5 separate regions of the Homo sapiens genome follow, and regions 1, 2, 3 and 5 are each linked to region 4. The links come from fine-mapping of genetic effects on gene expression. A gene starts in region 4. Each other region holds a variant in brackets. All regions are shown on one strand. Distances are between the middles of the regions. Region 1 holds the start of MIR635 (microRNA 635). Region 2 overlaps ARSG (arylsulfatase G). Region 3 overlaps ARSG (arylsulfatase G). Region 4 holds the start of ARSG (arylsulfatase G). Region 5 overlaps ARSG (arylsulfatase G).

Evidence for each region. PIP is the estimated chance that this variant, and not a neighbour inherited with it, causes the effect. A credible set is the group of variants that fine-mapping cannot tell apart.
Region 1: its variant is the best candidate, but not a certain one, in a credible set for the expression of ARSG in whole blood (INTERVAL, PIP 0.54).
Region 2: its variant is the best candidate, but not a certain one, in a credible set for the expression of ARSG in whole blood (TOPMed, PIP 0.59).
Region 3: its variant is the best candidate, but not a certain one, in a credible set for the expression of ARSG in whole blood (TOPMed, PIP 0.52).
Region 5: its variant is the best candidate, but not a certain one, in a credible set for the expression of ARSG in monocytes (TOPMed, PIP 0.83).

The regions. Positions count from the first base shown.
Region 1 is chr17:68,423,895-68,427,894 of GRCh38, reverse strand. It overlaps WIPI1 (WD repeat domain, phosphoinositide interacting 1), which reads left to right. Exons shown (of 13, transcript NM_017983.7): 11 at 642-760; 12 at 1,720-1,820. MIR635 (microRNA 635) reads left to right here and starts at 3,347; the gene lies at 3,347-3,444. It also overlaps a transcript of ARSG not described here and a transcript of PRKAR1A not described here. The variant T/C (reference allele first, on the strand shown) is at 1,878.
Region 2 is chr17:68,343,683-68,350,014 of GRCh38, reverse strand. It overlaps ARSG (arylsulfatase G), which reads right to left. Exons shown (of 12, transcript NM_001267727.2): 3 at 6,224-6,332; 4 at 2,843-2,890. Among named protein-coding and RNA genes, the nearest start is that of ARSG, 55 kb to the right of the region's middle. RefSeq lists enhancers at 3,132-3,271, 3,292-3,401, 4,673-5,173, 5,174-5,674. The variant G/A (reference allele first, on the strand shown) is at 3,280.
Region 3 is chr17:68,416,794-68,422,662 of GRCh38, reverse strand. ARSG (arylsulfatase G) reads right to left here. Exons shown (of 12, transcript NM_001267727.2): 12 at 1,849-2,474. The coding sequence ends at 2,200. WIPI1 (WD repeat domain, phosphoinositide interacting 1) reads left to right here. Exons shown (of 13, transcript NM_017983.7): 13 at 843-1,382. The coding sequence ends at 890. It also overlaps a transcript of PRKAR1A not described here. Among named protein-coding and RNA genes, the nearest start is that of MIR635, 4.8 kb to the left of the region's middle. The variant G/A (reference allele first, on the strand shown) is at 2,293.
Region 4 is chr17:68,288,278-68,294,609 of GRCh38, reverse strand. It overlaps ARSG (arylsulfatase G), which reads right to left and starts at 3,115. Exons shown (of 12, transcript NM_001267727.2): 1 at 3,042-3,115. SLC16A6 (solute carrier family 16 member 6) reads left to right here and starts at 3,483. Exons shown (of 6, transcript NM_004694.5): 1 at 3,483-3,524. RefSeq lists an enhancer at 2,028-2,257 and silencers at 3,117-3,291, 2,658-3,347.
Region 5 is chr17:68,360,389-68,366,720 of GRCh38, reverse strand. All of the region lies in intron 6 of ARSG (arylsulfatase G), which reads right to left. Among named protein-coding and RNA genes, the nearest start is that of MIR635, 61 kb to the left of the region's middle. The variant G/AG (reference allele first, on the strand shown) is at 3,254.

The DNA.
Region 1 (4,000 bases), 130 kb before region 4:
AAACAAAAGAAAAGCACTCATGCCTTCTGTGAACAGGCACAGACTGAGCTCTCCTGCTGTGGCCAGGGCACCAGAGCTGCCACCGCCCCCCACCGATGGCTGCTCTCCTTGCTAGCATGTCCTCACCTGTGTGTACTGGGAAGAGCAGAGGACTAATCTTTGTCTAGCCAATGTAAGAGAAAGAGGCCATTTTGACGGTGTGTGACTGCCCCTGGCAGTTGCAGGTCACTTCAGCTCATCCTGGCCCAGCAGCGTGTGGGTAGGTCTACAATTTAAACCCACAGAGTTGGCGGGCGGATCACCTGAGGTCAGGAGTTCGAGACCAGCCTGGCCAACATGGTGAAACCCAGTCTCTACTAAAAATACAAAAATTAGCCAGGCGCTGTGGTGGGTGCCTGTAGTCGCAGCTACTCGGGAGGCTGAGGCAGGAGAATCGCTTGAACCCAGGAGGCGGAGGTTGCAGTGAGCCGAGATTGCGCCACTGCACTCCAGCCTGGGCAATAGAGCAAGACCCTGCCTCAAAAATAAATAAATAACCCACAGAGCTGAGCACAGGCTTCTTCATGCTTTTCCTTTGGAAGGTGTCCTAGATATATGATGATTTCTTTTTTCTTTCACCTCCTCTTGATTGTCACAAGTAGCTTGCTTGGCTCAGGAACAACAGAAGAGAATAAAGAAAATGACCTCAGACCTTCCTTACCTCAGTCTTATGCAGCGACCGTAGCCAGACCAAGTGCATCTTCAGCCTCCACGGTGCCAGGTGGGTGGACACGGGGCCAACAGGGGAGCATCTCCAACAGTGACCTCCCTCCCCTTCTCCCTGCACGCTCCCTCCCCTTCCCCCTTCACTGTTACCTGGGGGTGGAGTGCCCTCCCTCCCCTTCCCCCTTCACTGTTACCTGGGGGTGGAGTGCTCTCCTTGAATTTTTTATTTTCTCACAGGTGAGGCCATGGTAATAGCCTTTAAACCTGGGACCCTCAACCTGGCAAGGCATCACACGATACGGTCTTTTTCCTAACAAGTGGTGTTAACCCTTTGCCTCTTCAAAAATTCCAATGAGGCCAGGCACATTGGCTCACACCTGTAATCCCAGCACTTTGGGAGGCTGAGGCCAGCGGATCACTGGAGGCCAGGGGTTTGAGACCAGCCTAGCCAACATGGTGAAACCCCATCTCTACTTAAAAAATAGAAAAATTAGCTGGGCATGTTGGCACACACTTGCAATCCCAGCTACTCCGGAGGCTGAGGCAGGAGAATTGCTTGAACCAGAGAGGCGGAGATTGCAGTGAGCTGAGATCATACCACTGCACTCCAGCCTGGGTGAAAGAGTGAGACTCTGTTTCAAAAAATAAAAACTAAACTAAAATTTCCAAAGAGCCTGTAGTCCTAGCCACTCAGGAAGTTAAATTGAGGCAGAAGGATCCCTTAGGCTCAGGAGTTCGAGACCAGCCTGGGCAACATACTGAGACCCTACCTCAACAAAGAAAAATTCAAAGAGGTAGGATGCCTCAGGCATCTGAAGTGGAAAGGCAGGTCAGGCTTAAAGATGGCAGATGGTGAGGATTATGACTTGTCCTAGGCACAGTACCTCCAGGGGGAAGACAGACAGCCCCTTTGCTTCCTTTGCCCTTTATTTGAGCCCCCGCTCCCCACCCGCCAGGTCATGGCATAAAAGCAGATCCCCAGTGCTTGTTTCATGTCTCTTTCTTGGTTTCCAGGTTATTCTGAGGACGGCGGGGCGCTGCGAGGAGAAGTTATTCCTGAACATGAGTTTGCGACGGGACCAGTGTGTCTTGATGATGAGAATGAGTTTCCTCCTGTGAGCATTAGGAACCCGTAACTGGGCGGCTCAGTCTGTGTGCTTAGAAGGAAACCT[T/C]CGCCTCATACGAGAGGCAGAGTCCCTTTCCCTGTTTTCTAATCTATAACAACTAATTCTCTGCTCTAGTATTTGGAAAGCCATAGGATATTTGTTGTACTGTGTGCTTCGAATCCTACAGAGTAGGCTTTAGGTGTCGAGCTAAACCCTGATGGCATTAGAGTCACCGAATACTAATCCAGGGAGTCTTGGTGGCCTCCCTCCAGCCAGAGGCCTGCGATCCCTTACTTTGCTTCTGTAGCACTGACTTTGCTGCCTGGAAGGTAGGAACACGTGACTTGTCTAAAACTTATTTTCCTGAGGCTCCCATGGATGCGTTTGCAGAATGCTGCCTTCCTTGTGCTGGAGGGGATGGTTTCAGAGGGCTGGGCTGTGTGTTCAGGACTCTGAGCTGAGTTGCTGCACTCTGTGAACCAGCTTGACCCTCACTTACCTGCAGCTCTGGCCGGCAGACCCGCACCTCCCCAGCAGTTGCAGACACTCATTAAGAAACAAGTGGCCGGGTGCGGTGGCTCACACCTGTAATCCCAGCACTTTGGGAGGCCGAGGCTGGAGGATTGCTTGAGCCCAGGAGTTAGAGACCAGCCTGGGCAACACAGCAAAACCCCATCTCCACCAAAAAAAAAAAAAAAAAAGAAAAGAAAAAATTAGCCGGGTGTGGTGTCACGTGCCTGTAGTCCCAGCTATTCGGGACGCTGAGATGGGAGGATCACCTGAGCCTGGGAGGTCGAGGCTGCAGTGAGCTCTGATTGTGCCACTGCACTCCAGCCTAGGTGAAAGAGTGAGACTCTATCTCAAAAAGAAAAGAAAAGCAATTGTGTGCTCTGTGGAGGGCAGCAGGTGCAGGGCAGGAGCTTGCCCGAGCACCTTTAGCTGGGTTTCCCAGCAACCTGCTCAGCCTGTTCCCACAGCTAGGGCCCTCGGGGCTGGCTGAGTGCTGGGCGTGGCTTCTTCCATCACCTGGAACTGAAGACAAGATTCCCTCCTGAGAGCCTGCTGGGGCTTCCTTAACTGCTGATTCTTCAGGCTCCCATCTGGAGTAACATATAGACCGCTCTTGTGAGCTTCAGTCAAAACATCCCAGATAGTCAACCTGAAATCATTTCGAGATGGAAGTACTGATTTGTTTTGTTTTGTTTTTGAGACGGAGTCTTGCTCTGTCACCCAGGCTGGAGTGCAGTGGTGTGATCTCGGCTCGCTGCAGCCTCTGCCTCCTGGGTTCAAGCAATTCTCCTGCCTCAGCCTCCCGAGTAGCTGCAATTACAGATGTGCGCCACCATGCCCAACTAATATTTTGTATTTTTAGTAGAGACGGGGTTTCACCATGTTGGTCACGCTGGTCTCAAACTCCTGACCTCAAGTGATCCACTCGTCTCGGCCTCCCAAAGTGCTAGGATTACAGGCGTGAACCGCCGCACCCGGCCGGAAGTAGTGTTTGGGCCAAGACTTGGAGCATCAGCTCCTAGAGCCAGAGAGGAGCTGCCACTTGGGCACTGAAACAATGTCCATTAGGCTTTGTTATGGAAACTTCTCCTGATCATTGTTTTGTGTCCATTGAGCTTCCAATTGTAAAAGGATGGAGTGCAGGTCTGGCTTCTTTCTCCCGCAGATCCGTGGAACCCTCTAGTGAGCACATTTGGCTTAGAAAACAAAGCTGCGGTGGGGCCCTGCATGCAGGGCTGGGGCTGTTGTTTTGTGATTTCCCACATCGGCTCTGCGGGTCGGTCGCAGCGTGAGCTTTTACATTTCTGGCTTTCAATAGGCAGGTTGTCAGAGACGTGGCTGGCAAGTGAAGTTTATATCTCAGTGGCGGAGAGCAGTTGTTCTTAAAAATACTAATTATAAACTTCAAAACCTCTGTTGGCATGCTGCCTAACTATAAACCAGTTGTTTTACCTTTGGGTTCTCATGGCCCCAACTGGCCTTAAAGGGCGTTCTTCTGCACCCTCAAGAGGCGGTGGTTATTTACCTGAAGTCGAGGCTTCCAGGATCCAGAGCACTCTAGGTCAGACACCGTGGGGACAAATGTGACCATTCTACTCTGTCAGGGTTTACCACATCCAGACACTCACTAGGTTCCGTTTCACTAATTTTGGTAAAAGTCTGTAACTACTATAAAATAT
Region 2 (6,332 bases), 55 kb before region 4:
TTTTATCATCTGGGTAATACCGTCTTCCCCATTAGTGATGCACTCCTCGAGTTAGACATTAGATCTTTGCCAACCCAATATGTGGTGTATGTAGAATAACTAGTAGATGCTTGTCGTATTTTTTTTTCTTTTTGAGACGGAGTCTCAGTCTGTCTCCCAGGCTGGAGTGCAGTGGCACGATCTCAGCTCATGCAACCTCCACCTCCTGGGTTCAAGCGATTCTCGTGCTTCAGCCTCCCGAGTAGCTGGGACTACAGGCACCTGTCACCACGCCCAGCTAATCTTTGTATTTTTGTAGAGATGGGATTTCAGCATGTTGGCCAGGCTGGTTGCAAACTGCTGACCTCAAGTAATCCACCTGCCTCGGCCTCCCAAAGTGCTGGGACTATAGGCATGAGCCACCATGCCCAGCCTGTTTGTTGTATTTTTAAAAAATTGATATCTTCATGCTAACTTGGTTTGCACAAATGGATTTAGCTACCCCCTAGGTACACAACATAGCCCTGAAATGCTACTGCATCTGGTATCAGGATGACTCTCCACCAAGGAGAGCAAACTTCTGCCGGAAAGAGCCAAATAGTAAACATTTTAGGTTTTGTGGGTCAGATGATCTCTGTTAAGGCCACTCAACTCTGCCATTGTAGCGCAAACACACCCACAGACAATATGTACACAAATGACTGTACATATTGGCTGTTTTCTTTTTTTCTTTTTTTTTCTTGAGATGGAGTTTCAGTTTTGTCGCCTAGGCTGGAGTGGTGCAATCTCAACTCACTGCAACCTCCACCTCCTGGGTTCAAGCGGTTCCCCTGCCTCAGCCTCCCAAATAGCTGGGGTTACAGGCATGCACCACTGTGCTGAGCTAATTTTTTATTTTTTTAGTAGAGACAGGGGTTCACCATGTTGGCTGATCTCAAACTCCTGACCTCAGGTGATCCACCCACCTCAGCCTCCCAAAGTGCTGGGATTACAGGCGTGAGCCACCATGCTTGGCCTTGCTGTTTTCTAATAAAATTTTATTTACAAAAACAGCTAGCATACTGGATTTGGACCACAGGTCTATGCCAACCACTGATCTAAATCATAGGCATCCTCATACCCCAGTGTTAGAAAGACCTCGTTGTGTTTGCAGGAGCCCTGACCTGAGGAACAGCCCAGGGCAGCAAGAGGAGCGTGGGTGCTTAGAAGGAATGTGTAAGTGTGCTTGGCATAACCCAGGGCATGTGAAGTTTTTTTCCGACTTCCTCCTTCATTCTATCTCTTCTCCAACCCAAGCTTTTAATCAAAAGATTAACCAGGCATGGTGGCGGGCACCTGTAGTCCCAGCTACTTGGGAGGCTGAGGCATGAGAATCACTTGAACCTGGGAGGCGGAGGTTGCAGTGAGCCGAGATCATGCCACTGCACTCTAGCCTGGGAGACAGAGTGAGACGGGGAACCAGGACAGTGCACCGCAGAGAGGATGTAAGAGGCAGGAGGGAAAAGGAGTGAACTTGGACATAAGCATGAAGAAACCTCAGAGTGTCCATGCCAGAAGGCTTTTTGGAATTGTCTGGTCCAAAGAGCAAATAGGTAGGAGGTACTCTTTCTTCCCACTTCCCACACCCACAGGAGACACCAGATCCATCATGGTACCACTTCCTGCTGCATAGGAGCTGGTCTCAGTATCCCCTCACCACAGGAATATGCCCTCAAGGTGCCAACACCTGATCTGGTCCAACCCCTCAACTGTCAAGTGAGAAAACTGAAGACCAAGGAGGAAACAAGTTCTGGAGTAATTTTTAGTGAGTGCAAAAGCCAGGTCTTCACTTCTCCCATCTGTCATTTTTTTTAAAGCATGTGTGGATGATGCCACGAATGCCCACCTGGGAAAAGGGGCTCAAGGGAGGAGAGGGAGAGGAATGAGCATCAAAGGGGAGGTAAGAGTTGAAGAAGACGTCAGCCAATGGGGTTACTGACCAGTGGGTCCCTGCTGAAGGCTGGCTCCAGGCCAACCCTCTGAAAGTCATTCTCCAAATGCAAAAATCTTCCAATGCAAACCTTCCGCCAGGTCTAGGACAGAACAATTCAGCCGTTTTCCATAGAGATAGGGAGAGATACTGGGGCAGGGGAGGGGAGAAGTCTGCAAAATAGTCAGAGAATCACATTTGCTTATAAAATGGCAGAAGAGGAAGGGGCCAGGGACAGGAGAAGCCACCAAAGCTGAGATCATGGTAAATGCCTTTAAGAGAAAGTCCACGGCTTCCTATAGGAAATGGAAAAGGTCAGTGGCACGAACTGCAACTTTGAAAAACCATCAGTAATTCAGTGAATTGGACGTTTGGAGAATCCGCCCTTCAGCAAAGTGATTTTCAGAGAACCAGCTTTGGTAGCTTGATCTTGGCCTACTTCCCCAAGGCCAGAGGGTGAGGAAGCAAAGGCTGCAGGAAGAGGCCAAGAGGCAGCATCTCCTGTTTGGGTCTATGGCCAGGTTTCCTGCTTCGGTGAACCCATCAGTCAATTTTTACTTCTTCCCAGATTAGCCATGTCTGGACCTCATGGGGCAGAATGTTCCCTGAGGTGTAAAGAACCGAGAGATGGCAAAAAAGCTGATGGGCCTGTGATGGGGCAGTTGGAAGGGCAAACAGGCACCAAGGAAGGACAGTCAAGGAAGATGCCAGCAAGTGGGATGTAAGGTCCCGGAGAGCCCTGGCACCCCAAATGCACTCAAATGACCTCGTGAACAAAGATGTCCTAACTTAGGGTTGCCCCCAGAGACAGGATGGCTTAGCTGTTCATGGAGTCTTACACAGAGACCTTTATTTTCTGTTTCCCAGGTAACAAATCCCCAAAAGAATTCTTACCACGGAAGTTGGGGTGATAAGAGCCGTGGTGTCCAAGATGCCATTTGCCTGTAGAAAAACATAAGAGAGATTTTCAGAGGAATCCCCATAGGGGTACCACAGCCCCCTGAGGAGCTGATCACACACTCAGCTCTCCATTAGCTTCGCCTCGCACTGTGGACAAGCCAAAAGAAGCTGCAATGTGGTGTACAAGCCAGGCTTTGCTCTCTGGGGCCGAGACGGTGTCCACAGGGACACATAAAGGATGACCCCAGACTCACACGGGAAACCACAGTGAAAGGGGAAGACAGCCCATCACCAGGAGCCCGGAGAAGCCTGAGCCTCTGCCCCTCAAAGAGGGCTCCACAGACACAGCAACCCCACATGGGCTCCTTCACTTTGCCCTCCCGCGCTGGGGCCCTGCAAAGGCACCAGGAGGCCCAGGGTGCAGGTGCACC[G/A]CCCCACATCGTCTCAGAAATGCCCGCTTCCTGCCTGGTTTCATCATCTTCCTCTCTGGCCAACATCAGCAGCCCGCAGTTCAAGCACCGAGACACCTACGGGGCAGCAAATGAGGAAACTCAGACACCCTGCTGCTCCTCGGTCTGCAAATGCGCTCAGTCTGGGGGAATAATCGGGCAATGTGTGGCAAGAGCTCTGACAGTGTCAGAACTCTCTGATCTGCTCTTCCGCTCTGAGGAGTAGACCCCAGGGACGCCACCCCCATGGTGAGGGGGCAAAGAAAAGAATGTGGTACAAAGATTGAGACGCTGGCAGCATTAAACCGCTCAAACGAGAGATTAACGGGCAACCACAGGAGTATGTCTAAGTACATTATTTGATGTGGCCTCAATAAGGAACTATCGATCTATTTTTTCAAGACAACTGCATGTAGCAAAAATTAAGAATCGGTGAAACTGGATGAAGGGCCTCTAGGAGTCCATTATTCCCTCCCTGCAACTGCTCTATGGGATTGAAAAAAAAGATTAATAAAAAATTGAGAGAAATGGGCTCTCAATTTCTCTCAATTGAGTGGCTCATGTCTGTAATCCCAGCACTTTGGGAGGCCGAGGCAGGCGGATCACATGAGGCCAGGAGTTTGAGACTAGCCTGGGCAACGTGGCAAAACCTTATCTCTACTAAAAATACAAAAATTAGCTGGGTGTGGTGGTGCACGCCTGTAATCCCAACTACTCGGGAGGCTGAGGCAGGAGAATCACTTGAACCCGGGAGGTGGGGGTTGCAGTGGGCAGAGATTGAGCCACTGTACTCCAGCCTGGGTGACAGAGTAAGACTTTGTCCCAAATAAATAAAAAAGATTGAGAGAAATGTATTAAGCATTATGTGAAATATTTGGATTAAACATTACATGAGAACATGACATTATATTAAAATTATGAAAAGTATTGTTTAATCATAAAAATTATACTATGTAAAATTATATGACATGGAAACATAGAATAATGTGAAAGGGGGAAAAGTGGAGCCCAGTGGTATTCGCACAGCTAGGCAACACATAAACATGGACCAAGATTAGAAGCAAAGTGTGAGTGTTGTAAAAGGATCTGATATTCCTTTGGTGGGTCTTTAATTTTTCCTAAAAGTGTACTTTAGTTCATAATTGCAACAGCTGGATATGCTTAAATATCCTGCCCAGGATGTGCAAAAGGTGTCGTGAGTGGTGAGGGGGTGAGGAATGCAGCTAAACAGTCAAGCTGCAAACAGTTGCTTACTGGGAGTTTAAAGGCATGAAGACGGAGGGGCCAGTGAGGTCAAATTCAGCTCCAGAAGAAGCCAGCCCCACTTCTGCAGCATAGGGGCTGAGTCTGGGACAGCCCTGGGACCTAACTCTTCCTGGCTATGAGTTTTATTATTTATTTACTTATTTGTAGATACAGAGTCTCACTATGGTGCCCAGGCTGGTCTCGATCTCCTGGGCTCGAGGGATCCTCCCACCTCGGCCTTCCATAGTGCTGGGATTACAGGCGTGAGCCACTTCGTTCAGCTGGCTGTGAGGTTTACATGGACGCATGTAACTGGCCTAGTAAGGAGAGTCAGCCCACAGTGGCAGTTTCACAAATGGTGTCTTGGTGTTGATGTTGTTAACATAATGACTCCTTGGGGTATGGGAAGAAAGGGATTGGAAAAAGAGAAGTGTGTGACCTTAATTGGTCTCTCCTACAGCCTGGGACTTACCCCTTCTGGGACAAAGAATGCCGCACTCCAGGTTGAGCTTCCGTAAAAGGATATCAGGCTCTTTAACCCAGAGTGGGATAAAAGGGCCAATAGCAGAGGCACCAGCCCTGGGTCTGGGTAGAACAACCTCCCACAGGTTCACACGGTTCAGACACCCAAGGCATGCCCACAGGGCCACCCGCTTGTGGTTGCACCCTCCCTCCCTTGCAATTTCCTGTATAGTGGAGGAGGCAGGGATCCCAAGGGGTCCAGCTCTTTGAGAGTTAGACTAACAAACACAGGGAGCTGAGGATACTTCTGGGAATACTGGGCTGTCTTGGCTCCTGGAGGGGAGAAGGGCAGTGAGGCAGAGCCTCAGGGCAAGGCTGGGAACAGATATACCTGCCTAGACCTGGCCTCCACCCCTCCAGGTTAGGCAGCTTCTCTTCACCGGCCTGAAACTCAGTTCTCTTGCCAATACAATAATCATCTTCATGCCAATAAACAGCCCAGTGCCTAGCACATAATAAATGCTGAGTAAGAGATGCCTAAAAAAATGTTTTAAAGGAGAGGGAGTCATTGGACAATGTGGCAGACGTTGCTGGTCTCCCAGCAATGCCCATGTCCCCATGTATCCTGCTAATAGAACTGTGGTTTTGTTCAAAGGGAGGAAGATTACCATGCCCAAGTTCAAGTCAGTCACTACAATGCTGTCCCCAGTTTCTCAATCTGGGAGTGCAGCAGTGAGGCGTGGCCAAAAGACCCAGCTCTGGCCAATAAGATATAAGTGCAATTCTTGGGGTGCAGGCAGAGCTGAGCCATCTCCCTTCTCTTCTTCCTTCCTTGAGCCAAATCGTGGTTCAGGGGCCTAAAGTCGCTGGATGGCAGTCATGAGGCAGTGAGCATGAGGACAAACACCAAACACCAACATGCTAAGGATGGCAGAGCAGAAAGATCGAGTGAGAGCACCTGGCTCCCGGCAGCATCTTTGAGCAGCTGAATTAATGAAAGCAACCAGTTACCACAAAACTTGCTATAATGGGAGGAAAATAGCTCCATGTATGTTTTAATTCACTGTTAGGTCTTTTCAGTTCCTTATAGCTGAGAGCATCCCTAACTCACACAGCAAGACATGAACAGGAAAGCAGACAGGGAGTATGTTGGGAATTTGCAAACACAAGGCGGCTGCCACTGCAGTAAATGCAACAGGCAGACGGGGCCCAGAGTTACCTATTATCCCAGTGACGTAACCCGCCTGCTGCAGCACCTCTGCCAAGGTGGTCTCGTTGAGCGGAAGGCCTCCCACAGAAGTGACTGCAAAGTTGCGTGTGACTCCATT
Region 3 (5,869 bases), 130 kb before region 4:
CCACCTCCTAGGTTCAAGTGATTCTAGTGCCTCAGCCTCCCAAGTAGCTGGGGTTTCAGGCATGCTACCATGCCCAGCTAAATTTTGTATTTTTAGTAGAGACAGGATTTCACCATGTTGGCCAGGCTGGTCTCAAACTCCTGACCTCAGGTGATCACCCCCCTCAGCCTCCTAAAGTGCTGGGATTACAGGTGTGAGCCACTGCGCCCAGCCTAAACTGACTTTTTTTTTTTTGAGATGGAGTCTTGCTCCATCGCCCAGGCTGGAGTGCAGTGGTGCGATCTCGGCTCACTGCAGCCTCCACCTCCCCGGTTCAAGCGATTCTCTCCTGCCTCAGCCTCCCGAGTAGCTGGGATTACAGGTGAGCGCCACCATGCCCGGCTAATTTTTGTATTTTTTAGTAGCGATGGGGTTTCACCATGTTGGCCAGGCTGGTCTCAAACTCCTGACCTAGTGATCCACCCACCTCAGCCTCCCAAAGTTCTGGGATTACAGGCGTGAGCCACCGCGCCCAGCCTAAACTGACTTTTTAATAGTGATTGAGCAGTCCATGTTTACAAGTAAGATGAGCCTTTTAAAAATATATACATATACATATAAATACATACACACACACACAGAGACATTTTTATAGTCAGTATTTTCTAGAACTGTGTCATACTTGTCTACACCTAAATAAGCTGGGTGACCATTCTGTGGCCATGAGCGAGTTCAGACAGAAAAATTCCACAGTGCCCAGCCTCTCCCTGCTCACTCTGCATGGGCACAGACCTGTTGATAATGCACCTGCCTACCAGCCTCTTCCTGAGAAGAGTAAGGCCATTCTGTTTTGATTTTGGTAGATAATCTTGTGCCGTGGAAATCAGAAGGGCAAAACGAAGCAGTCATGATGAGAAGCACACCTCAGAAATCAGGACATCCCCCCTATCAGGTGGTTTTGGAGAAAACAAGGAAGGCGGAAGAATGGAGTGCAATTGTGTGAGCAGAAAGGGGGGCAGGAATCCCGGGTGCTCCACTGCTTAAACCACAGGACCTGGTTAACTCCTCACCAAGCTTCCCACGACCCTGGTTGCCAATGGGCGCGGGAGACATTGTATACACATCATGCTATTTAAAATACGTTCAAACTATAGTGTAAATGCTAATTAACCATATTGGTATATAACCGGAATTTTATATTAAAAGGGGCCTCCTTTTTAAATATATGCCGTGTAAAAAATGTACTTATAGGAACATCTCTTTGAATTGTATTTCTTGTATATTACATACTTAGAGAGAGACTCTTTTAGCCAGGCAAAGTCTTTTTTGGCTGTGGCTGGAATAAATCATTTATTACTTGGGAGTCCCATTTTGGACACTAATAATAAAATCATGGCAATGCATTTTTGAGGTTTTTATATATTTTTTTGTTTCCTTGTGGTTATAGGGGACAGGAGGAACTCTTTAACTTCTTTTAAATGCAGTCATTTCACCCTTAAAAGGAGAGGAAGGGGATTGGGCCACAGACTTATCCATGGACTCGTCTGCTCTGAGATCTGGAAAACGACCTAACTTTGGTCTAAATCTGTGCTCCTCAAGGCATTGTTTGATAGAAATGTAGGATTTCAGGATCTACTCGAGCCCTACTGAGACGGAATCCGGATTCTCACAAGATCCCAGGTGATTTGTTTGCATATTAAAGATGGAGACCAGTGAGTACACTGGTTTGTGGAAGGAAAAAAAGAGAAAAGAGAGAGAAGCTCTGCCCTAAATACTAATTAGAATGGATTTACACCAAAATGACCAGAGAAACTGGGAACCAGAGAAACAAGGAAACTAAAATGTATTGAATGTCTGCTCTGTGTCAGGTAATTTGCCAGGCATTTTCATGTATGCCTTTATTTAACCCTCAAAATCAACTTGCAGGTTAGGTTAAACAATTGCCCAAGTTCAAAAGCTGGAGCTGGCACCTGTGCCTGACTCCAAAGCCCGTGTGCTTCCCATTAAGGCACACTCCCTGCCCAGAGCCAGCGCAGCTCAGCTGCTCTCGGGTCGGCGTGGAGGAGGGACAGGATACAGAAGGGATATGCAAGGCTAACTCCAAAACTAAACTCCAAGACTAAACTAAAGCGTGTGTTTGTAAAGAGGGTAAAAATGAAATTTGGAAGCAAACTTGCCTAATTTCCAGGTACTCCTCCTCGTGGAATAAAAATTGGTCTGTTATGCGGCTTGACAGCGGCAGGCAATTTGGTAGGGATTACAGCAGGGAGTTACTGAAGGGTCCTGAGTGTAATCTGCGCTGGAGATGTTGTC[G/A]TTGGCAATGTCTTGGAGGACGTCTGCAAGAACCTTTCTGACCTCGGGCAGCACAGCCTGGTACTCCGCACCACCTCTTTCTAGGGGCACAGCTTCTGCGGTATCGTCTTCCAGGTTGAAAATCAGAGGAAACTTATGCTGCAGCTCAGGCCCCGTGCTCCCATCACACGCCCTGGCTCCACCTAGAGAGGGAATGACAACAAATGCCTCGCTAACCCTGACAGTTGCCCTGTGTTGTAAAGACGAGAGCTGCGAGTGATTCTACATTAATTCAAACATACCAGATAACCAAATGTTCCAATGATGGCTCTCTCTGTCAAAGAAATATTACCTTGAGAATCTATTTGCTCCTTCCAGTGATGATCCTGTGGTCCAAAATGTTTTGCTTTTTTCATTTCTGTTTTTGTTTTTTGAGGCAGGGTCTGGCTTCGTTGCCCAGGCTGGAATGCAGTAGCGTGATCCTAGCTCACTGCAGCTTCAGCCTTTTTGGGCTCAAGTGATCCTCCCACTTCAGCCTCCCAAGTAGATGGGGCTACAGGCATGCACCACCACGCCCAACTTTTTTTTTTTTTTTCCAGAGACAGGGTCCCGCTATGTTCCTCAAGCTGGTCTCAAACTCCTGGCCTCAAGCAATCCTCCTGTCCCAGCCTCCCAAAATGCTGGGATTATCAGCAGGAACCACTGCAGCCACACTAAAATGATTTGGAAGTTCTCCTTGAACTCGCCTTCAGGGCCAGTAGAACATTCATTCAAGTATCTTTATTGACACAAAATCAGGATATAATTATTTTTTCAAGTTGGAGTCTCGCTCTGTCACCCAGGCTGGAGTGCAATGGCACAATCTTCAGCTCACTGCAACCTCTGCCTCCCAGGTTCAAGCAATTCTCCTGCCTCAGCCTCCTGAGTAGCTGGGATCACAGGCACCTGCCACCACGCTCGGCTAATTTTTGTATTTTTAGTAGAGATGGCGTTTCACCATATTGGCCAGGCTGGTCTGTTGGCCAGGCTGGTCTCGAACTCCTAACCTCATGATCTGCCCACTTCGGCCTCCCAAAGTGCTGGGATTACAGGCGTGAGCCACCACACCAGCCAGGATATAATTTTTTAAAGTATCTTTAACCTCTGCCCTTTAGGAGTAAATTTGATTTTTTTGAAAATCGATTTCTTGACTACCAATTGGTGAATCAAGTAGAAAGGCAGGTGAGTCATTTCACTTTGGGTTGAAGATGACAGTCTTACGTGGATTCGAATCTGGCTGTGAAAGCCATCCAGAAGAGGAAGGACAAAAATGTTTGGAATGATAGCAGCTTCCTTGGCTCTTTATGATTCCGATGACTTTTTTTTTTTTTTTTTGGCTTTGCTATAGAAAAAGCAGTTAAGGGTCTGATGGAAATAAATATGACATAATTAAATAAACAAAGGGAATTAAAGCAAAAGATAGCCCTCAAAATTACAAGAGTTCCTAAACACTGACTTTGCTTCTGAGCTTAGCAGCAGCCAAACATTAATGAGATAGAAACTTATCAGTTGCTCAGGAGAAGCAGAGCTTTTTCTGGCACTAAAATCTGAGAGAAATTCTTCCAGTGGCTCCTTCTCCTACAGGGGACCCTGTAGGATGGAATGCTCACTGGCATTCTTATGAAAAATAAAACTGAGATTAGGATGGTTCCACTGACGACTTCTTATCACATCCTTTACTATATGATGAGGGCAGATGCCAACATGCAACTCAATACAAGGAAGTCTATAGGGGCAAAGCCATACCACCTAAGGATTCAGCCTTCTGGTCCAATCTGGCCAGAAATAAAATTTGAAATATTTAGGAGAATGGGTAGATCTCAAAGCCTTTAGACAACCCTTTTTTATTACTGGTTTTCCACCTGTGGCTGAGAGTCAAGTTGATCAGTAGAGATTAATAGTTGTTGTCTTTGCCTACAGTTTGGAATAGAATTTGATTATTCTTCATTGCCAGTACAGGGCAGTGACATGAGCTTTGACAAACAGTTCATGCTAGGAGTAGAGACTGTGTCCCAGGACTGAGGGATCTGCCTAAGATCAAGGGAAAAATCTGAAAGACTCGTCCTAACAAAGTGTAAAACTAAGGCTTTATAAGTTCAAGGGAACTGACTACTGATTAGCTGCCAGTGAAAACAAAAATCAACACTCTCAGGTAACAGAAATCAGAATTGCTACAATGCATCACCAACAATGTCCAGCTTACAATTTTTAAGGACGACTAAATAGGAGACTCCCAGTTTCTAGTCTGGCACATAAGGAGGTCGGCAGTCATCACTTCATTCTAACAAGTAAAAAGCTGAACAAACTAAAAAATCAACAACTCAGCCGGGTGTGGTGGCTCACGCCTGTAATCCCAGCAGTTTGGGAGGTTGAGGCAGGCGGATCATGAGGTCAGGAGTTTGAGACCAGTCTGGCCAACATGGTAAAACCCCGTCTCTACTAAAAATATAAAAAATTATCTGGGCATGGTGGTGGGCACCTGTAATCCCGGCTACCTGGGAGGCTGAGGCAGGAGAACCACGTGAACCTGGGAGCCGAGATCGTGCCACTGCACTCCAGCCCAGGCAACAATGTGAGACTCCATCTCAAAAAAAAAAAAAAAAAAAAAAAAAAAAAAAATTCAGCAACTCTTATTAGGTCTTTTGGAGAAGTGAAGTCACAGGGCAAACTACTGCCCCCAAAATTAGAGAGACAGACAAGCAAATAGAAACAATCACAACTTAACAGAGCAGAAACCCACAAGCAGAAACCTCTGCAAGAACCAGTGCCAGGAGTAGGGAAGCCCTGAACTGTAATTGACAAATTGCTGGAGGCTCAGTGTGGACAAGTCTGAGAGATGAAAAACTCCAGTGGGGCCCAGTTATCAAGCGCCACCCCCCACCGCGGCACCCAAAACACAACACACTTTTGTGAGTTTTACCTCCAGGAGCTCAACCAAGTTCTTACAGTAAATACTGGAGAAAAATCTCTTCATCCTTCCAAAAGGGGTAGGAGAAAAGTAATTTTTAAATATACCAAAACATTCTAGTTTTCTTAACAAGGCCTGCCCTCAGGAGAAACTAATTTACCAGAGCTTAAATTACTTAGGTTTTTCTCACAGCCTAACTGACCTAAGGGTAGGGGGATACCCAGCTCTAGCCACTCTAGCTGTTCCACCTAAGGGGAGGGAAGGGATAGACTAAGAAGCACTTGTGAAGTTCACAGTCCAAGGGCCCAGGCTCACCAAAACTACTAAGACTTAATAATAACCTACCCAAATGAGAAGGAACCAGAAAACCAACTCTGGTAATTAATATGACAAAACAAGGCTCTTTGACACTCCCCAAAAAATCACACTAGCTCACCAGCAATGGATCCAAACCAAGAAAAAAATCCCTGATTAACCTGAAAAAGAATTCAGGAGGTTAGTTATTAAGCTAATTAGGGAGGCACCAGAGAAAGGTGAAGCCCAATGCAAGGAAATCCAAAAATCAATACAAGAAGTGAAGGGAGAAATATTCAAGGAAATAGATAGAATAAAGAAAAAACAGTTAAAACATCAGGAAACATTGGACATACT
Region 4 (6,332 bases):
GTGGGCCATCGAAGCCTCCCATGGAAGCCCCCTTCACATATTCTCCCCCTTTGATGGCTGCCCTGAAGAGTCAGCCCCCAAAAGCAGGCTTGCGGGACCCTCTTCCCAGAGGTCCAGACCAGATTCCTTTCAGTCTACTTACCCAAGTTGAAGTTCTCACAGGCTGGTAAATGCAGTGAGCTTATTTGCAAGCCAGGGTCATATCTGCCTAGCAACCCAACACGAAGACTTGAAGGACTATAAACGTGGACAGAGAACAGGCAGGCCAACTTTACACAAAGGAATCTGTTCTCATGCAAATGACCCTATGCAAGAGGGCTAAAAGAGGGAGCCTTGGGGACAGCTCTGAAGAGCCAACTTTTTCCCCAAGAAGATGTTGGGGGTCTTCTTAAGGGCATCATGATGGTCTTGCCCACTGTAAAGGAAAGCCGAGAGGGGGCTCTGCCTGCCACTTGGGATCAGGCAGACACAACAGGAGAGGCTAAGAGGGGAGCTGAGCCCTTCACTTGATTTCCTGATTTTTCTGGTCCTGTACTCCAGACTCCAAAGGTTCTTTTGTTCTTATTTAGAACTAAACAGAGTTAGTTTTGTTTGGGGGCAAGGGGGCGTTGATTAGCATGGCAATGCAGTGCTTTCTCTGGAGAAGTTAAAAAAGCAGGGGTTTTCACGCTTGGTCTCACTAGGATTGAGGGAACAAGGTGAAGCCAGCCTCTAACTAGGGTGGGCAAAAGTCATGTTGCGTGACTTTTTTGTGACTAGCAAGGCTGTGCGTAGGTTGGGTTTCCAGCTACCTCTCCATTATTCAAACACAGATGGCAAATGTCATCTTTGGATGAGCTCTAGTGGTAAAAAGTGCTAGTGTGTATCTATAAACATGGTGTAACCTTAGGTCAATCCCTCCAGTGCTCAGTGCCTCCACTTTCCTCATCTGTAAAATGGGAATAATGAGTGTCAACTACAGAAGGTTACTGATGCGGTTAACATTGCATTACATGTATGGCACTTAATGCAGTGTTGAGGACAAAGCAAACATTTAAAAAAGATTAATATTAATAAAATATAAGAATAGTAACACATTAGTAACAAAAATCTATTATTATTATTATTATTATTATTAGAATCATGCTCCCCAAAAGCCAGGTTTCACTTGCTCAAACATTCAGATGTGATTTTTCCAATCATTCATTCACTCCTGAGGATTTAGGTATAATTTGAGTCATTTTTTAAATCAAGAGACTGAAGTACAGAGATTTTATGTGACTTGCTTCGAGTCACTCAGGTATAAATGGCTGGCTGCACCTTTAGGTTCCTAAGACATACAGAATATGCTGTCATATTGCACATGATATTTCCATATAGAGTACAGTAACAGGTCCTAAGTATTAAAGTGTAAGATCCTAAATATCAAAGATTATCTTACAGGCAGCCCTGCATTAGCATGAAGTGTTCAAATCAGTTTCTAAATATCATTATATATGGATCCTTTGAAGAACAACTCAAAAAAGGGCTCTCTCTCACAGGGAGTGTGTTGGAGTCAGCAATTAATTGGCCTTGGTAAAGCATAAATCGTAACAGCAGCAAGAGCTAATGGGTACTGAGGCCTTACCAAATGCCAGTCACTGCGATCCGCACTTTACAAGTACCATAAATTAAACCCTCCAATTCTGGGAATACCACCTCCATCCCCATTTTACAGATCTGGAGAAATTAACGCTCTACGAGGTTAAATTACGCCTACAAGGTTGCAAAGCTGCTCAGCGGCCCCTTGGCTGTACACTACTGGCCATACAAGGCACCCTGTACCAACGAATCTTCTCCCCACTTACACAACCAGAACTTGTCAACGGCAAAGGATGGCATTTAACTCAGGAGAGCCTATCCCAAAATGGTGAGAGAACTCAGCGAGCAAGGAAGGATTTTTATTAAAATTCAGATCGCCGACTCCTCCCGGTGGCGACCCTCCGTGCATGCACTCCCAAACTAGGCTCTCTTGAGTTTCTGACATCAGAACCACATTCTCCGAACCCCAATGAAGGCAGCAGCCGGCGCCAAAGTCTGCATACGAATGCAAATAACATGGCCTTTGCTTCCGAGCAGTTTCCAAATTTGCCCTCGGGATGTGAGGTAGAGACCAAGAAGCTAAGTTTGCGCCCCCGCAGGCTCTGAAATGTCTAGGATCTGACACATGCTTTGTCCCCATGAGGAGCTCCTGAGATTTCGCGTGCATCATCCGCTTAGTTCACGGTGACCTTGGGGTCGGGGACTACGGGATGAGGGGCACGGACTGTCTAAACCTCCAGGTCCCTTACAGAGGGCTCCCCGCGGGTATGGGAGCCATGCACCTGTGCCGACGCCGCCACTGCCTGGAGGGTGCGCGCGCGCCCCGGGCCGGGGATGCTGACTCAGCCCGGCTGCTCACATTCCTTTCGCGCAACGCGGATGCTGTTGCTGCCGCTGCTGCCGGTGCAGCAAAGTGGGGGAAGCAAGGCACCCGCAGCGGCCCGGCCGCTCGCTCCCTGGGGCCCACTGCGACACTCCCTCCCCACTGCCGGAAGGGGAACTGTGGGGGTGCGCGAGTTGACGAAACTGGGGGAAGTGGGCGCTGCAGGAGGAACTCAGGCGCCGCGCGCGCAGCTCACACCCAAACTGGAAGGAACCTGTTCTGCCCGGGGCGGGCGCGAAGCCGCCGCAGCCGCGAGCGCCGCGCGGGATCAGCCCCGGCGCGCGCGTGTTCCCCCTCGCCGCTAAATCCCTAAATCCTCAGGGCGCGGGCGGGACTGGGCGGTGGGCGCGCCGGGAAGGCGCCCGGGGGTGGGGACGGGGACCCGCGCGCTCGCGCCTGGCCGAGGTGCTCCGAGACAGGATGCAGGCACCCCCAACACCCTGCACGCTCGCGCTCCTACTAGCGTTGCAGCAAAGCTCCGGGGTCTGGGCGGGTCACGCGCGCAGAGGCGCACCCGGGTTGGGAGATCGGGGCGTTGTGCCAAGGACCCCGGCGGCGCTGGCGGGGGCGGCCCGGCCCCGGACCGCGACGCGGTTACCTTTCGTGACCCCCAGCCCAGGCGGCAGGCTGGCGGGCGCGCGACCGGCGCGGCTCAGGTCCACGTGGGACGGCGCGCGCGCGCCAGGCAGGCCCCCTCCTTGGCTGCGCTCAGCGCTCGCAGCACATGGTCGGCGGCGGCGCGCCCCCGAGGCCGGCGGAGACCGGCTGCAGCCGGTATAGGATAAGAGCTAGGCAGCGACGCGGGGCCGGGGCGCGGGCGGCAGCACGCACGGCCCGGGTCGCAGGCGGCCGGGGTGGGGGGCGGGGGGAGGGTGTGGCTCGGGTGCCCGAGTCGCGGGAGTGGGTGGAGGGCCCGGGCGCTCGGGCCTCACCAGCCCGAGCCAACTTGCGCTAGAGTCGGGCCCGCCCCCTAAGGGGTTAATCCTTTTCTCATGTTACCGAGCGGCTTATAAGGAGGGGGAGGCCAAGCCTCCGCCTTATTGGGAGCCTTTGGGGGTTTATTCTCTTCCCTTCTAACTTGGTGAGTTGGTTTATTATTTTACATGTTTAAAAGTTTGATTGTGGGATGTGGGTTGTTTTTTAAAAAATATGTGTTGGGGCCTTTTTTTGTGATGGGAGGCGGAGGAGACCACTGAACATCTTCACATTTTGGAGAGGTTATTCCCAAAAATATTCGCTCTGACAGTTAGGAATGCCCAGGGCCACCGGGATGACGCGCTCGCGCCGGTGTGGGTAGCTGAGAGTTGAATGTCCGTGACCCTGGTACAGTTGGGTCCCGGAAGATACCTAAAGGCACGCCTGGCCTTTGAGTGCCCCCTGCCCCGGGTTGGGGGCTCCGGGACGTCGGAAGAGTCGGGGGCTCCAGGCTCAGCCCCTCCGCGGATTTTCCGCATGAAGTTGCCTGCGCGTCGCAGGAGCGAAATGTCAGAGGTACCTTCCTACCCCAGGCTGGCGCGCGCACGCAGGCCGGGCACTGAGGCAGCGCGAGGGAAAGTGGGGCTCCCTGCCTCCCCCGACCCCCAAACACAGCACTCCCTGCGGCGGCCACCGTTTGTCCCCAGCGGGAAGCCGGGGATTTCCCGGCAGAGCGCGGGTCCTCCACCTGGACTGTCAGAACTGTCAGCGGCTGACGGCCGGTCCCGCGCAACTTCAAGGTTCCCGGGCTGCCAACCGCAGGAAAGCGCTGGTGTCGCCAAGCAGTTCCGTAGCAAGGGAAGATGGTTTTGCAGAGGAAATGGGTTATTTCCTTCTAGGTTGTTGTCGTCTTTTCTTTTTATTCCCCCCACCCTAGCAAGACAGGTCATAGAAGTTTGTTAGGTGGCGTATATAAAATGTCACCAAACATGGGGGGCGTCAGTCTTAGAAAAAGCTCCCCGGAGCCAACTGGGGAAGAGCAATTACAACTTGTCAACCTGGAAGCCGGTTTTGTTTGCACGGTTAGACACTCCGTGCCAGCTCCTTCTCGCAGGAGATGGTTTCTACCCCGGGAATGAGATTTCTCAGTGATCTGATTGTTTTTGCAAATCATGGTAAGATAGGTGTCTTGCTTGTAAAAAAGATGCCAAGTGCTTATGCTGAAATCTCTAAACCATGCATCTCCCCATGTCCCAAGCACCGTTATGTGGCATTTTTGGGGTCAACAATACATCCGGCCAGATGATATAATAGAAACCCCTCTTCTCATAATTAAGGGAAGAGTGTCCAAAATAGGAACTTACAGTGTGTAAATAAACAATGCAGCCAAGTGGAAAAGCTCCTTCCAGTGTAATGAGTACCACTAACCCTGAGTTTTCCTTCTGTGGTTTCCGAAAAAGGACTTTCCTCAGTGGAACTCCTGAGGAGGACACTTAAATTAGGGGCTCAGGTTTCAACACCATAGTCTTGTAAAATGGTGACTCGGTTGTAGCCAGTGATTCAACATCGTGAGGCAGCTATCCAGGTTAGGTTTGGAAATTTTTTTTAAATAGAGAATGCAGATGAACTTTAGCCAAATACAGACTGGTTTTGACAACTTGGGCCAGAAACAACTTGTCAAAGCTGTTCTCCGGGCTACGCCTTTAAGAAGAAGAGAAATCCGCAGTGCTTTTGCTCGAGGTCTGCCTACAACAGTAGCCACCCCATTTCCATCCAGAGCCTGCGTTTTGAAACTTGCTCTTAGCTGACCCTGGAATAACACTCTGATGGTCTACAATAATACAATTTTTTTCATGCCCTCGGGCCAAATCTTCTCTCGACAAATTAAATCACAGTGAAACTCCCAAGGATAGCGGATTTCCAAGCCTTTGGCAAGATACCTACTTATTTATTTGTTTAGAGGCAGGGTCTCACTCCCATCATGGGAGTGCAGTAGCGTCATCTCTGCTCATTGCAGCCTCGACCTCCCGGGCTCAAGCGATCCTCCCACCTCATTTTTTAATTTTTTTGTAGAGACACAGCCTCACTATGTTGCCCGGGTTGGTCTCAAACTCCTGGGCTCAAGTAATCTGCCTGCTTCGGCCTCCCTAATTGCTGGGATTATAGGCATGAGCTACCGCACCCGGCCAATACTCATTTATTTAAGGGGACACTTAACCACATGCTACTAGGAAATCCTCCAAACTGCCCGTGGATTGTGTCATTGTACTTCCTCCAGAAGAACACTAGGGTGAAGGGAAGATGGCTGCCGGGAACCCCCATTCAGAATTGTCGAGTTTTGTAAGTTGGAAAAGGCTTGAGAGACTCCCCTGACAACCCATGCTTTACAGATGATAGAAGTTCTAGAAGTTCAGGATTCTGTGGTTTCCATAACTGTGCAGCCAGTTAATGGTACACAGAAATTAACAAATATGGCCTAAGAGCTTTAAGAAGACCAACTCTTCGGCCTTGCCTTCAAAGGGCTTAGAAGGATTAAAGCAAGTGACGGTCAAAGGCTGTCATAGAAGTATAGACTATTAGGGCAGGAAGAGATCTAAGCTCATCAGAGTCTAGTTCAACTCCCTTTTTTACATTTACCTTGATTTTACATTGACATTGAAAATGGGGAAGTGAAGTGATTTGCCTAAATTCCATCATCCGTAAAGCAGGGGTTGATGGGCAGGATGACTCAGCTCGCCTCACCAGTTAGATCCCTACACAGCTGAAAAATATCCCTACCCGTCAGATAAATTCACATGGCCACAGACCAAAGTGGACAGATAAACTTTTATATTCTGGAACTTACAGAGGCTTCTGCATAAATGAGTTCAAAATTCAGGCCTCAGTTGCTTTGTTTGCAGAGACAGAAGGTTTGGCCTTCTGCTGAAGGAATGGAAAAAAAGAAAAGGAGAAGGCCGGGCACAGTGGCTCACGC
Region 5 (6,332 bases), 72 kb before region 4:
ACCCACAATAAAATACACACACACACACACACACACACACACATACATAAATTCCTAGCCACATTTCAAATGCTCAGCAGCAGCAGGTGGCTAGAGGCTAGCAGCTTGGACAGTGCAGATAGAAAACATCTCCATTCTTGCCTAGTTTTTTCGTACAGCAATGATTTGCAGTGCCTGATGCCAACTCTCCCAGGGATGGTCATGTACAGTTGTGCAGGTTGTGGCCTGCATCAGGACATCCTGCTGAGTGAATGGGTCCTTATTTCCAGCTTACAATCTACTGGCTGGTTACCCTGCACAGGGCAGTGCCTGGCCAGTGGGGGTGGCTTTTTTTAATTTTCAGGTAGATTCCATATTGCAGTGGTGCCTAGATCTGGCTCAAATTTCAAGTATTTTGCAAACCAGTTGTTAAACATGGCCATTGCTAAAAATTCAATTATAAAAGTCCACAATTAAATAAATTTTATTTTATTTTATTTTTTTGCCAGGCGTAGTGGCTCACACCTGTAATCCCAGCACTTTGGGAGGCCGAGGCAGGCGGATCATTTGAGGTCAGGAGTTTGAGACCAGCTGGGCCAAGATGGCAAAACCCTGCCTCTACTAACAAATACAAAAATTAGCCAGGCGTGGTGGCAGGTGCCTGTAATCCCAGCTACTCGGGAGGCTGAGGCAGGGAGAACCACTTGAAACCAGGAGGCAGAGGTTGCAGTGAGCCAAGATTGTGCACTGCACTCCAGCCTGGGCGACAGAGCGAGACTCTGTCTCAAAAAAAAAATAAATTAAATAAATCAATAATATTTTTTGAAAGTAGTACATTCTCACCATTTATCACTTCCCAACTACTACATTCTGCTATGATGTAGGCTCATGGGGTTATTTACATCTATTGTATCTGTGTGGTGGAAATAACACACAATGGCTTGCTACTGCCCATCATTTTTCAATGCCATATTCGGTGACATCTCCATAGCTGGAAATCAGCCATGGTGAGATTGAGTATTTACACCTCAGGAATTGGCAAATGCTACAGACTGCAGCTGTTTTCTTAGAAATCAGCTCACCATGTGTATGGGCGAGGGGTGGTCCTGCTGTCCACCCTTCATCATCCATCATCATCTTCCAAACTCTCACCCATTATCAAAGTCACATTAGCACCCTGAGCCAGAGGCTTACAGAGACAGGCAGTTATGAGAGATGGCAGAGCACAGGCTGATGAAGAGCACAGGCTTGAGAATCCTGCATCCAAACCTCCAGATTTGTTATTTCATGACTGTGTAGCCCTGGACAATTAACTTAACCTCTGTCATCTATAAAATGGGGACAATCAGACCTCCCCAACAAAGTTGTGTAACTTCCCACACTAAGCATCTAATAAATGGTAGCTTATTTTGTTGTTGTTTTTTGTTTCTGAGACGGAGTCTCGCTCTGTCTCCCAAGCTGGAGTGCAGTGGCGCGATCTTGGCTCACTACAACCTCCGCCTCCCAGGTTCAAGCAATTCTCCTGCCTCAGCCTCCCGAGTAGCTGGGACTACAGGCATGCACGCCACCACACCTGGCTAATTTTTGTATTTTTAGTAGAGATGAGGTTTTGCCATGTTGGCCAGGCTGGTCTCGAACTCCTGACTTCAAGTGATCTGCCTGCCTTAGCCTCCCAAAGTGCTGGGGTTACAGGCATGAGCCACTGCGCCCGACCGCTTCCTTGTTAAGAATGTTGAATACATGCCAGCAGTAGTAAGCATAAATGATGCCCAAGGATGTACCTCTCTCCCTGCATCCTGATGCCAGGCTAGATTCCAAAACATGGCATCAGGCAGAGCCCACACAGACTAGTCCCTTGGGGGCATCTGTCCCGCAAGCCACCTCTTCATTATGCACCTGTGCTGAATGGAAAATAGAGTGGGGGGACACCTGATGCTTTAAAAAAATACTGATTATATCACAGTGTGACTCCACTTTTGTTTTCTAAAACACATTCATTTCAACTATACCTTAATAAAACCAGGGAAACATATGTTTATGCACCAGCATAGAATGAGGCTAGAAGAACATACTCGGAGGTATTAAAACAGGTTATCCTCACACTTGTAATCCCAGAACTTTTGGAAGGCCGAGGTGGGTGGATCACCTGAGGTCAGGAGTTCAAGACCAGCCTGGCCAACATGGTGAAACCCTGTCTCTACTAAAAATACAAAAATTAGCCAGGCATGGTGACGCGTGCCTGTAATCCCAGCCAGCAAGAGAATGGCTTGAACCCAGGAGGCGGAGGTTGCAGTGAGCCCAGATTGTGCCACTGCACTCCAGCCTAGGCAACAGAGCAAGACTCTGTCTCAAATAAACAAAAAACAAAACAACAACAACAACAACAAAAAACAGGTTATCTCTGGGATGGAATTCAGGGTGATTTTTTTTTGTTTGCTTGTCTCAGTTTTCCGAGATTACTAAAGGGAACACATGCTATTTTTGTGGGAAAACAAGTGGAATGGTGAGTAGAGAAGGAAAAAAACAAGTAAGATGACAGAGGGGACATTCCAGGAGAGCAAGAGGATGGGGCAGGGTGTGGAGACAGGGTGTGGAGAAGATTATGGTGCAGGGACCGTTAAGGCTGGGGAAAATCATCTGATCCGAAATGGAAGAGGGCAGGTGAGAGGCACCCATCTCTCAAGAAGTGTCCCCAGATGGTGCCTGGGTGGAGGGAGGCAGGCCTGGAGGTGAAGGCAGGGCTTCCCTCATGCAGGGGGAAATGAACACCTGCAGCTCTCAGCCCACTGGCCTCTCTGGTGGTGGCTCCCTGGGGATGGATGGGCAAGGGGTCTCTCTGAAATGGACTGCTGCAATAACCACTTGTCCCCCGCCCCACCATTTTGCCATCTTCCACTAGACCCTGGCATCACAGACAACCTTCTCTAACCCAGACTTGATCTGGCAGATCTCTATTTAGAAACGTACTAGGGCTCGGCCAGGCACGATGGCTCACGCCTGTAATCCCAGCACTTTGGGAGGCCGAGGCAGTTGGATCACCTAAGGTCAGGAGTTCGAGACCAGCCTGACCAACATGAAGAAACCCCATCTCTACTAAAAATACAAAATTAGCTGGGCATGGTGGTGCATGCCTGTAATCCCAGCTACTCGGGAGGCTGAGGCAGGAGAATTGCTTGAACCTGGGAGGCAGAGGTTGCGGTGAGCCGAGATCGCGCCATTGCACTCCAGCCTGGGCAACGAGAGCAAAACTCCATCTCAAAAAAGAAAGAAGAAA[G/AG]AAACAAAAGAAACGTACTAGGGCTCATTGCAGCCTGCAGGGTCAATCCAAACTCCTCACCCAGTCTTTGCAGCTTTCCCTATCTCCGTCCCTTCCAGCCTGACCTTCCTTCCCTGTCAAAGACTCTTTCTATATGCCAGTGTCCCAAGCACCTCACCTACTTCCTGTGCCTCATCTATGTTATTCCTCTCTCAGCAGTATTCTCCCTGTTATCTTGCCCCAAAACACTTAATCAGTTCTTAAGATCCAATTCCAAAGCCACCAATAGTCCTCCTCCTTTGCTCCCAGGTCATGGTTGGCTGCCTCCTCTCTGCCCCCATCCCTGCCATAGCCCTTTTCCCTGCTTCTTGCGGTATTAATAAGATACAAACAACCTGCATTAAAGCCATGTTTTTACATATCTGTTTCCCCACTAGCTTGGGAATCACTCAGAGACTGGACATGTCTAATTCACGTTTGAATCCCTGGCACAGCACCAGCACATCACTGGAGCTGGATAAGTAACTCACTCATTCATTCATTCATTCATTAAATATTTATTAAGCTCTAACTGGGCACTGGGGACAGAGGAATGAGCACAATAGATATGATTTCCACCCTCTTGGAGTTTAACATCTAATTGAGACCAGGAAAGAGAAAAAGGCAACTAAAATATAAATAAGATGATTATTTAAAAAGTTAGTATAGGCAGCGCATCCCAAATCTGAAAATCCAAAATACTCCAAACTCCGAAACTGTTTGAGCACTGACCTGACACTCAAAGGAAATACTCATGGGAGGATTAGGGATGCTCAGCCGGTTAAGTATAATGCAAATAGTCCAAACTCTTTAAAAATCCAAAATCTGAAATACTTCTGGTCCCAAGCATTCCAGATACGGAATACTCAGCCCGTAGGAGAGATGGAAGAGAAATACAAGTTGCTGTGGAAGGTGTAACAGGGGAACCAAATGGGGTTTGGGGTGTGGAGGGGAGGGAAAGATCCCTGAGACAGTGGGACCTGGAGGACGGTGTGTGGTGACCACACAAGGCAGAGAACATAGCCCTGGGGGAGACGTTCGATATGATTGCCTCGCTAGTCATTAGTTTATTCTCTCACTCACTAGAGATCCGTCTCTGCATTCAAACAGGAGAAAGGAGAAAGAGGGGTTGGGGGTGAGTATGGTCTTTGGATCTGAACCTGGATCCCTGACATAGGTTGGTGTCGGGTGGGAGCCGGGTGAGAGGCAAGATGAGGAGGGGGCAGCACCACAGCAGGGGCACTTAGGCAAGCATGGGGGCCAGCAATGAAGACGGATAGTGAGTCAAGGAAAACGGAGAATTCTGCAGATCCCAGGCATGAGCTCATGAAGGCTGGAACATGTCTTTCATCTCTGCATCCTGAGGACCTAGTTCCAAAAGATGCGTGTCCTGTGTCTTAGCCTGCTAGGGACGCTATAACAAAATACCACTCCCTGGGGTGGCTTAGTATACAACCATCGACTTCTCCCAATTCTGTTTTTTGGGTTTTGTTGTTGTTGTTGTTTTTGTTTGTTTGTTGTTGTCATGGTTCTTTCTGAGAGTTTCGCTCTTGTTGCCCAGGCTGGAGTGTAATGGCATGATCTCGGCTCACTGCAACCTCCGTCTCCTGGGTTCAAGCATTCTCCTACCTCAGCCTCTCAAGTAGCTGGGATTACAGGCATGTGCCACCATGACCGGCTAATTTTTGTATCTTTAATAGAGATGGGGTTTCACCATGTTGGCCAGGCTGATCTCGAACTTCTTCTGACTGCATGTGATCTACCCACCTCGGCCTCCCAAAGTGCTGGGATTACAGGCGTGAGCCACCGTGCCTGGCCTTTTTTTTCTTTTTCCAGGTTCTAGACTGCAGAAGGACCTATTTGTTTGTTTGTTTGTTTGTTTTGTTGTGTTTTTTGTAGAGATGGGGGTGGTCTCACTATGTTGTGCAGACTGGTCTTGAACGCCTGAGCTCAAGCAATCTCCTACCCTTGGCCTCCCAAAGTGTTGGGATTACAGGCATGAGCCACCACGCCTGACTTTACGTCTCCCAGTTCTAGAGGCTGGGAAGTCCACTGTCTGGTAAGGGGCTGATTCTTGGCTTATTAACAGACAAGTGTCTTCCCACTGTATCCTCACATGGCCAGGAGAGAGCACACCAGAGTCTCTTTCTCTTCTTTTAATACAAACACTAATCCCAACATGGGGGCTTCACTCTCATGATCTTATCTAAACCTAATTTCCTCCTAATGGCCCCACCTCCTAATACCACCCCATTAAGGGTTAGGATTTCAATGTGTAGTACATGACACCATGGAAGATTGATTTGTTTGAAAGGTCTGATTTCAGGCCGGGCACGGTAGCTCACACCCGTAATCCCAGCACTTTGGGAGGCCGAGGCAGGTAGATCACCTGAGGTTGGGAGTTCGAGACAAGCTTGGCCAACATGGTGAAACGCCGTCTCTACTAAAAATACAAAAATTAGCTGGGTGTGGTGGCGGGCGCCTGTAATCCCAGCTACTCGGGAGGCTGAGGCAGGAGAATCGCTTGAACCCAGGAGGCAGAGGTTGCAGTGCGCCAAGATTGCAACACTGCACTCCAGTCTGGGTGACAAGAGCGAGACTCAGTCTCAAAAAAAGAAAACTAAGAAATGTCTGATTTCAAACATGCTGGGCCGCTGCTCATCCTGATGCCCGATACACTCCTGCTTATCAAGCCCTGTATTGCCCGCGTAGGTGCAATGCACGGTCCCAGACCTCAAAAGGAACAGAGGCCCAGCTAGCTCTGTGACCCAGGAGTCATGCCTTCTACCGGCTCCTTTTCCCATTCAGAGATTTGCCTGCTGCTTAAAAAACTCCAATCAAGCATTAGCATTCAGCATTGCTACCAGATGAAGGGTCTAAAGTCAAGTAAACTGAATGACCAGCAGTGATAACCAAGTACTACGTCGAGGGTCTTGGGTGAAACACTAAAGCCAACTAAAGACCCAAGTAAAAACTCCCTAAGTCCCAGGGTGGGCCCCCTTGTCAAGGAAGAGCGGGAAGCCACACTCTAGGGACAGCTGGTGGTTTTGAAAAACAGGTC